Homo sapiens: one gene and its partner. The protein of the gene in region 1 interacts with the protein of each later gene in a pairwise test. Each region holds a gene or a part of one and is shown in the gene's direction. Other genes may lie near its edges. The genes, in order: GRB14 and GIGYF2.

Region 1 (3,924 bases):
GCTAGAAAAGGGGAGAAGTGTTGGAGAAATATAACCAATTCTGAATGTTATCAACATTGCTTTTCTATGTGAAAGAAATTGATCTGAAAATGACCTTTTGAGTTTGTCAGACTCTGCTTTACTTCCATTTTTTTGTCCACCAATGGTAAACTATTAATTTTCTATCTACCACCTGCCATTCAGTAGAAGACATTTGCTATAGTCCTGTGTTTTCCGTTAATCTAGTTAATGTAGCAAATGAAAACGTTCCTTATTTGTAGTGTCGTCTTCTTATGTATGTCAAGTAAATAGGGAACACAGGATCTTGTTTTATTTCCTGGCCTGCTATACTAGAGGGAGAAAAATAGGACAGCTGATTATTTTTTTCTTAATATAATGGTATTTTTATGTTGCCAGGGAGTTGAGATTACAGAACCTACCTTGGCATGTAAACGGAGAGATATTATAAGGATAAAGCTATTATGATTGAGGAAGCTTACTCTGTGGTTTGGGCAGGTGGATGCTTTTCATTAATGTCAGCAAAGCACAAGTATATCTGACTGGTCTACAGACCTGCACAGAAGATCACGGGGTGAGAAGGGCAAACTAAGGTGTGACAGCAAATAGAGATTACAGAGACAGCATCTGTGTGGAAAGAGCAGCTGTCAGTTATAAAGGCTCCTGTAACAAATGAAAGATTGCATGCCAGATCTTTAGAAATATAGATGAACCATAATAAGATTGTAGGCCACTACAGCATAGTTTGAAGAGAAAATTACAAATGCTAATAAAGTGGGATATGTTGAAGCAGTGATAAAGGAGTCCTATAGTTATCTGTGGATAAGGTTTTGTTTGAAGCCTACATTTGACTATAGTCTATGCAACCAAGCCAGGTATAGCTGAATCTACATAAAGAGAGATAAAATGCTTTTAAGCCAGGGGGCCCCAGATGCAGGCTGGCTAGTAGTTTACTATTATAACACCACTTTGGGTTTTGCTCTTCTATTAATTAGTAGAAAATAACTGTTATTTTCCATGGGTGTTTTAAAATTTTTCTTTTGGAGAATTTTAATTCCTTCTTGATGTTGTATGAACTTATGAACTGAGTGGGATTCTTGACTAGAGATTTTGACAATGGTCTTTCTTAGGATTCATGACTTGTTGTGGGGTGGCATATTTGTTAAAAGATGGTTGTAAAGTAGAGCCCCAAACAAACAAAAAAGAAAAAGAAGATCGGGTTTTGCATATTTTACTTTCAACTCAAAGAATATAAATACAAGAAGTAGTTAGCAAAAACAATGACTTTATCATTTGTTTAAACTAAGTTTCTTTAAAGTTGCCTTCTATCAGTTCTTATTCAGGCTTATTTTTGCAGCCCTCATGTGGCCAAGTGTATTCTCACAAGATGAAAATGTATTCATATGTTAAATCATGGAAATTTTAAGGTTATGGAATTATCAGGATTATTCTTTCACTAAATTTTATTTTCTAAGTAAGATGAAAGTTGATGTGATAAACTTTTAAAATACATATTCTAGTTTGCTCCATTATAAAACTCATTAAAAATAATGAGTATTATTTCTCAAGAGATATATGTCAATCTAAGTTATAACTTTTGGGTATCTTGAATCTTAAAAACTAGTTGCTTCATAAGTAGATGGATTTGACATTTAATTGATGACTGACGGATCTCAAAGCTTAATGGAGACATCAATTCAGAAACAATGTATCTTTTTAACCAGAGGAAGAGCTATTCCTTTCTAAATGGAAGTTTTCCCATTTTACTAGAGAACGTGAAAAGATAAGTTTGTTTTAGAAGAAAGACATACTTTAAAAGCTTTTAATCTGTTTATTCAACTCTTCAATTACCTTAACAAATTACTATTTAGCTTTTTTAACAAAAATATTTTTAGCACCTTTATATCTTGAATATGTATTTTCACTTTAAATATTCTGCTAGCCCCTTCAGGCACCACCTTCTAGAATGGAAATGTACTGCCAGAAAAACACTGAGAGAAAAACACTGAAATTGAAAAACACTTTCAATTTATTTGAAAGATAACTTTCAAAGAAATTTTCATAACTCAAATGTGTTTCTTTTTTCCAGAGAAGTATATCAGAGAATTCCCTGGTAGCAATGGACTTCTCAGGCCAGAAAAGCAGAGTTATAGAAAATCCCACTGAAGCCCTTTCAGTTGCGGTTGAAGAAGGACTCGCTTGGAGGGTACAAGTAGCTTCACATGCTTCAAAATATTTATGATTTCAGTTTGTTTCACCTAAAAACTTGAGATTTGTTTTCTCCTTCCTTGCTCAGAAAAAAGGATGTTTACGCCTGGGCACTCACGGTAGCCCCACTGCCTCTTCACAGAGCTCTGCCACAAACATGGGTATGTCTGTTCATAGTCATTGCCACTGAGTAGACGGATAGACATGGAAAGGACATGTAATGAAATTGCAGTCATCTCAAACAAAGCTTTGCATTCATCCATCCTATTTCTTTAGCTATCCACCGGTCCCAGCCATGGTTTCACCACAAAATTTCTAGAGATGAGGCTCAGCGATTGATTATTCAGCAAGGACTTGTGGATGGGTAAGTTTGGTATTTTTAATTTTGAGTACTTGTGAATTGGATTTCTCCTATAAGCAGAAATTATTTATTCCATAGCCACAAAGAGTTCTTGATTTGGGCTTATCATAAAACAGAAGTGACATTGTTCTATAAATGAGGTCATCACTGTATTCTAACAGTATCTATATTATACCTGGTACATAGTGTGTGTCTGGTATTTGTATATAAATGGACAAATAACGGAATAGAGTATCTTGTTCTTAACCAGTGATCACTAATATTACCCATTATGTCCTGATTCTAGCATCTCAGATATCAATTGATGGGGGAAAATGAACTTCTTTTTAAGTGTCAATATTTTGATTTGAACATATGATTTCGAAGTATGGTTTATATTATGACATTATGTCAAATGTATTTTTTTAGGTATGATGCAACATGTATTAAGTAAAAAGCTGTTTCTTAAGTGTTTTGAACACTTATTTTTTTGTGTGTTTACATCCCTATTGTCCTTTCTCTAAATTTTAACATCTTAAAGTAATATAGATCCGTGAAAAGAGTACCTTTCAACTGTTTCTCATGTTGTCTTTTAGTGGGGTACCATGGAATACAAAAGAGAAATATAAAATGTATTATGAAAGATTTATAATGTGAAGAATTTTATTTTTCTCAAATTACTCAGTGTTTCAGATACTTTCTATAATACTGGCTGAATTCCCTTTCCAAATGCAGTACAAATGAGGGAGGTTGTATTGTGGTTTAGATGAGTAATGAAATCATTATCAATTTAAACAAGTGGTGATGGGATCTTTTATCTTCAAAAGTTGGCTAATCATGTCATTATCATGACAAGATTTCAAGGTGATTTAATACTGAAATTTGGATAACAATGCTTCTTCACATGGAAGATTATTAATAGGAAGTCAGCATTTCCCCAGACTGTAAATAAGATATTTTAATACGTTTCTTTGCATGGAATGCAGTCTTTTTGGAAATAAATTTGAACAATCAGTAGAATTACAATCTGATGAAACCAAGAAAATAAATGAGTCACAAAGAATTATTAAAATGTTTTGAAAGATTGTAATTTTCTTTATTTCTGAGCCCAGTATTTATAAAGTGAATGAAATGATCGTATAAAAAAAGATACTATCTTATTTTTAGTATTTTTGGTATTCTTTTGGAGAGATGTGATGGTGCCAAGTGATCCACTAGGTGGTAGTGGTGATCTACTTGGGAATGGGAAAAGAATTACAGCTTGATTTACCAGTGAAACGCCCTTTTGTCCCATTTCCCAGTGATGTAATGTCGGAATCTCACACAGCACAAATGAAATGGATAAACTCGTCAGACATCTGTGATGCTTTAAATTTGGC
Region 2 (3,924 bases), about 68 Mb from region 1:
TTTGAAATGACATTTCCAAATTATGTCTTTGATGTCATATCAGCTCATTTGTTTTCATGACTCTGCATTTTAATACTCCATATTGTCTCTTCTCTTTTTGTTGACCTTCACATTGGAAGATGACACTGTTGATAGTGATTGCTATCTGGGAGAACCTTTTTGGGTAAAAAGATTACTACTGTCGCTTTTATGATTGCCCTTCTGTAGGATCTTTGACTTGTGCCATTTTCAAATTTTGACTTTGTTTGCAGTTCTCCATTAGCTCCTGCTGATTAAATTTCCCATACTTTCTGTTTTATTCTATTTCTTATAGATTATAGTGGGACCAGTCTCATTAGGTTGAATCTACAGCCTATGTTGGTGTTAACCCAGGTCTCTTAGAGGCAAGTTAAATGTCCATTTTCCTTCAGTTTAAATTACCATGGCATATTGTTTGGTCATTGTTGTAACAGTCTGAACTCAAGCTTTTTTTCACTGCTTGATTCCCACTAGGGTTTTGTGGTGATAAAGTCCTATGGTTTTTGCATGGGAGAGTATTTAAGAATAAAAGGAAAAATATATAAAATGAAAAAGAAATAGAAGTTTAAAATAAGATAAAAAAGTCCTAGAGTTTCCATTCATTTTTAATACTTTGAAAAATTACATCTCTTTAAAACTAGAGATTTTTATTTCATGTATAAACTTGCTTATAGTTAGCATTGCAGTGTTTCTTGACCAAATATTGTTTTTACATTTTATTCATGCTCTCAGATGAATGAGAAATATACTAAATTAATTATGTAGGAATGTAAAGTGATACCTTTATTGAATTGCCTATAGTTTTGTGTGAGGTTGAAAGCAGAAAGAGGTTTGAAAAACAAAGAATGTTCTCTTAATTGACCAAACTTCATTTTATAAAGGTATTTCAAAGTATTACATACTTCCCTACTTTAAGTAAATAAGGAACACAATTTTATATTTTCTTGTTAACTATGGGGTTTCATTAAGCTTAATTATTATTATTATTTGAGATGGAATCTCACTGTGTTGCTCAGGCTACAGTGCAGCGGCCTGATCTTGGCTCACTACAGCCTGTGATAGAGCAAGACCCTGTCTCCTGGGGGTTTGGGGTTGCAGTGAGCCGTGATTGCACCGCTGCGCTCCAGCCTAGGTGATAGAGCAAGACTTTCTCCAAAAAAGACAGGGTCTTGCTCTGTCACCTAGGCTGGAGGGCAGCGGTGCAATCACCACTGACTGTAACCTCAATCTCCCAGGCTCAAGCCATCCTCCCACCTCAGCCTCCTAAGTAACTGGGATTATAGGTCCATGCCACCACATCTGGCCAATATTTTTTGTAGAGATGGGGTCTCACTATGTTGCCTAGGCTGGTCTTAAACCTCTGGTCTCAAGTGATACTCCCGCTTCAGCTTCCCAAAGTGTTGAGATTATAGGCATGAGCCACTGTGCCCCACCAAGAATGCAATTTGAGAAAGTCACATCCACTTCTGATTTAATTTTGCAAAAAAAGTAGCCATGTTATAATGTCCAAAGGTCATCCAACTTTACCCACTGAACTGTGTAATTTTTTAAGGGCAGGAGGAAAGGGAAGAAGAAATGGATAATAAACTCTTCTTTGGCTGGGTGCAGTAGTTTACACCTATAATCCCGGCACTTTGGGAGGCTGAGGTAGGAGGATCACTTGAGCCATGAGACCAGCCGGGGCAACAGAGAGAGACCCCCATCTCTAAAAAAGATTTTTAAAAAATTAGCTGAGTATGGTGGTGCACGCCTGTAGTCACAGCTACTCAGGAGGCTGAGCCCAGGAGGTCAAGGCTACAGTGAGCTCTGATTGTACCACTACACTCCAGCTGAGGGAACAAAGCAAGATCCCATTTTGAAAATAACTGGCCGGGTGCAGTGGCTCATGCCTGTAATCCCAGCACTCTGGGAGGCTGAGGTGGGTGGATCACTTGAAGTCAGGAATTTGAGACCAGCCTGGCCAACATGGCAAAACCCTGTGTCTACTAAAAATACAAAAATTAGCTGGGCATGGTGGTGCACACTTGTAATCCTAGCTTCTCGGGAGGCTGAGGCAGGAGACTTGCTTGAACCTGGGAGGCGGAGGTTGCCTTGAGCCCAGATCGTGCCACTGCACTCCAGCCTGGGCAACAGAACGAGACTCTGTCTCCAAAAAAAGAAAAAAAACTCTATCTGTCTCTATCTAGTTGCTTTCCTGTAGTTAATGAAATTGTCAACTTTAATTGTTAATTATTGTTCTTTGACTTGTTAGTAGCAGTAAAGCATCATTTGATTTTAGCCAAGAAACTATTTGAAGATACTATACTTCAATTCACTCTTGTCACTTGGAATATCACCAACTTATGGATTTTTAAGATATTGCCCCAACAGAGCATTAAAGGCAGGTTGTGATTTTGCACACTTGGAGCTTTGCTCCCTGGACATTTTGGCAATGATCATATTTCTGAGGGCTCAGTGATTATTTGCATAGGATGCATATTGCTGTGATGCGGCTTTTGTTTTTCTGTTAGATATATATTTTTTGAGATAAGGTCTCACTCTGTCACCCAGGCTGGAGTGCAGTGGTACAGTTGCAGCTCACTGCAGCTTTGACCTCCCTGGGCTCAGGTGATCCTCCTACCTCAGCTTCCCGAGTAGCTGGGACTACAGGCATGTGCCACCATGCCTGGCTAATTTTTGTAGAGGTGGGGTTTTGCCATGTTGCCCAGGCTGGTCTTGAATTCGTGGGCTCAATCGATCACCTTCCTTGGCCTTCCAAAGTGTTAGGATTACAGGCATGACCCACTGTGCCTGGCAGTAGGTTTTAAAAGTTAATACCAAGTCCCTATAATGGGGTTTTGAATGAAAACCCCAAATAATGACTTCCCTGAAACCCCATGGTGGTCTTCATTTGACAGCTTCATAAGAATCACTTAGGACTTTTGTTAAAAAATATAGTTTTCAGTCCCACTGTAGAACTACTGAGACTTTCTAGATGTTAGGGAACCTAGTTTATAAATACACCAGGTGATCTACTCTTTTAACCAGGTTTGGAAGCCATTTTCTGCAAAGTATATTTATGATGAAAGATTGTACTTTTAAAGTTTCCTAAGAGGTTGCTGGGTGATTTATATTAATATTTTTATTATTTACAGCGTTAAAAGGATCTGAACAAAGTCTGCTCAAATCTCCTGCTGTGAACCAGCAGAATTTTTGAACAGGTAAGTGTGGAAGGGAAGCACAAAGCCTGAGGGCTTTTGCAAATAGGTAATTTCTGCTTTTAGGTTTTAGTTATTTTTGCCCTATTATTTCTCCTGAGGTTTTGGGTAGTGAGAAGAAACTTCTTCCCTGGTGCCTGTCAGATCCTTTATGAACAGTAAGAGTAACATACCCTTTCTGCATTGACCCTGGTGTGAATTTGTGTCTTAAACTGTCATAATAATTTTTTGTTGGCAAGAAACAAGGAGGAATGCTTTGGAGGCAGGAGTACTGTAAAGAACCAAAGAGCAGTTGACTTCATGAGGGACATGAACCAGAAACTGGGAAGCTTTCAGGAGCCATAGTACTTGTAGATAGCACTTTTTTACCAGCTGGCCAGTGTCCTCTCTTGTCTCTTTTTGTCCTGCTTTAATTGTATTTGTGCAGTCTGGCCTTTTCTGCTTTAACAAACACAAACTCATGGTAGCAAATGGCCACTTAATTCTTGGAGCCACATATGAACTTAGGCTCTAGTGCCAGTAGCCAATTGATGCTAGCACAGTGTTCACATTTCATATTCTTGGGAGGGGGAAATTTGGCTGGTTGAACTTGGTTCGGTTCTTTGTCATTGATCACATTAGTTATGGACATAGGGTTGGAGTCTAGAAGTGCAAGCACAGTTAGCTGAAAGGTCCCACTCCTAATGGTGGGGGCAGGTCTCAGAGAAGG

Evidence for each region.
Region 2: the proteins of GRB14 (region 1) and GIGYF2 interact in a two-hybrid assay, tested with the Homo sapiens proteins (one study listed by BioGRID).

What each region holds. Positions count from the first base shown.
Region 1 is NC_000002.12:164,495,653-164,499,576, reverse strand, and holds part of GRB14 (growth factor receptor-bound protein 14), read left to right. Parts: intron 1-2,086; coding exon 2,087-2,203; intron 2,204-2,293; coding exon 2,294-2,366; intron 2,367-2,481; coding exon 2,482-2,569; intron 2,570-3,924. UniProt on the Homo sapiens protein: Adapter protein which modulates coupling of cell surface receptor kinases with specific signaling pathways. Binds to, and suppresses signals from, the activated insulin receptor (INSR). Potent inhibitor of insulin-stimulated MAPK3 phosphorylation.
Region 2 is NC_000002.12:232,700,272-232,704,195, forward strand, and holds part of GIGYF2 (GRB10-interacting GYF protein 2), read left to right. Parts: intron 1-313; exon of another isoform or gene 314-383; intron 384-3,152; 5' UTR 3,153-3,218; intron 3,219-3,924. UniProt on the Homo sapiens protein: Key component of the 4EHP-GYF2 complex, a multiprotein complex that acts as a repressor of translation initiation. In the 4EHP-GYF2 complex, acts as a factor that bridges EIF4E2 to ZFP36/TTP, linking translation repression with mRNA decay.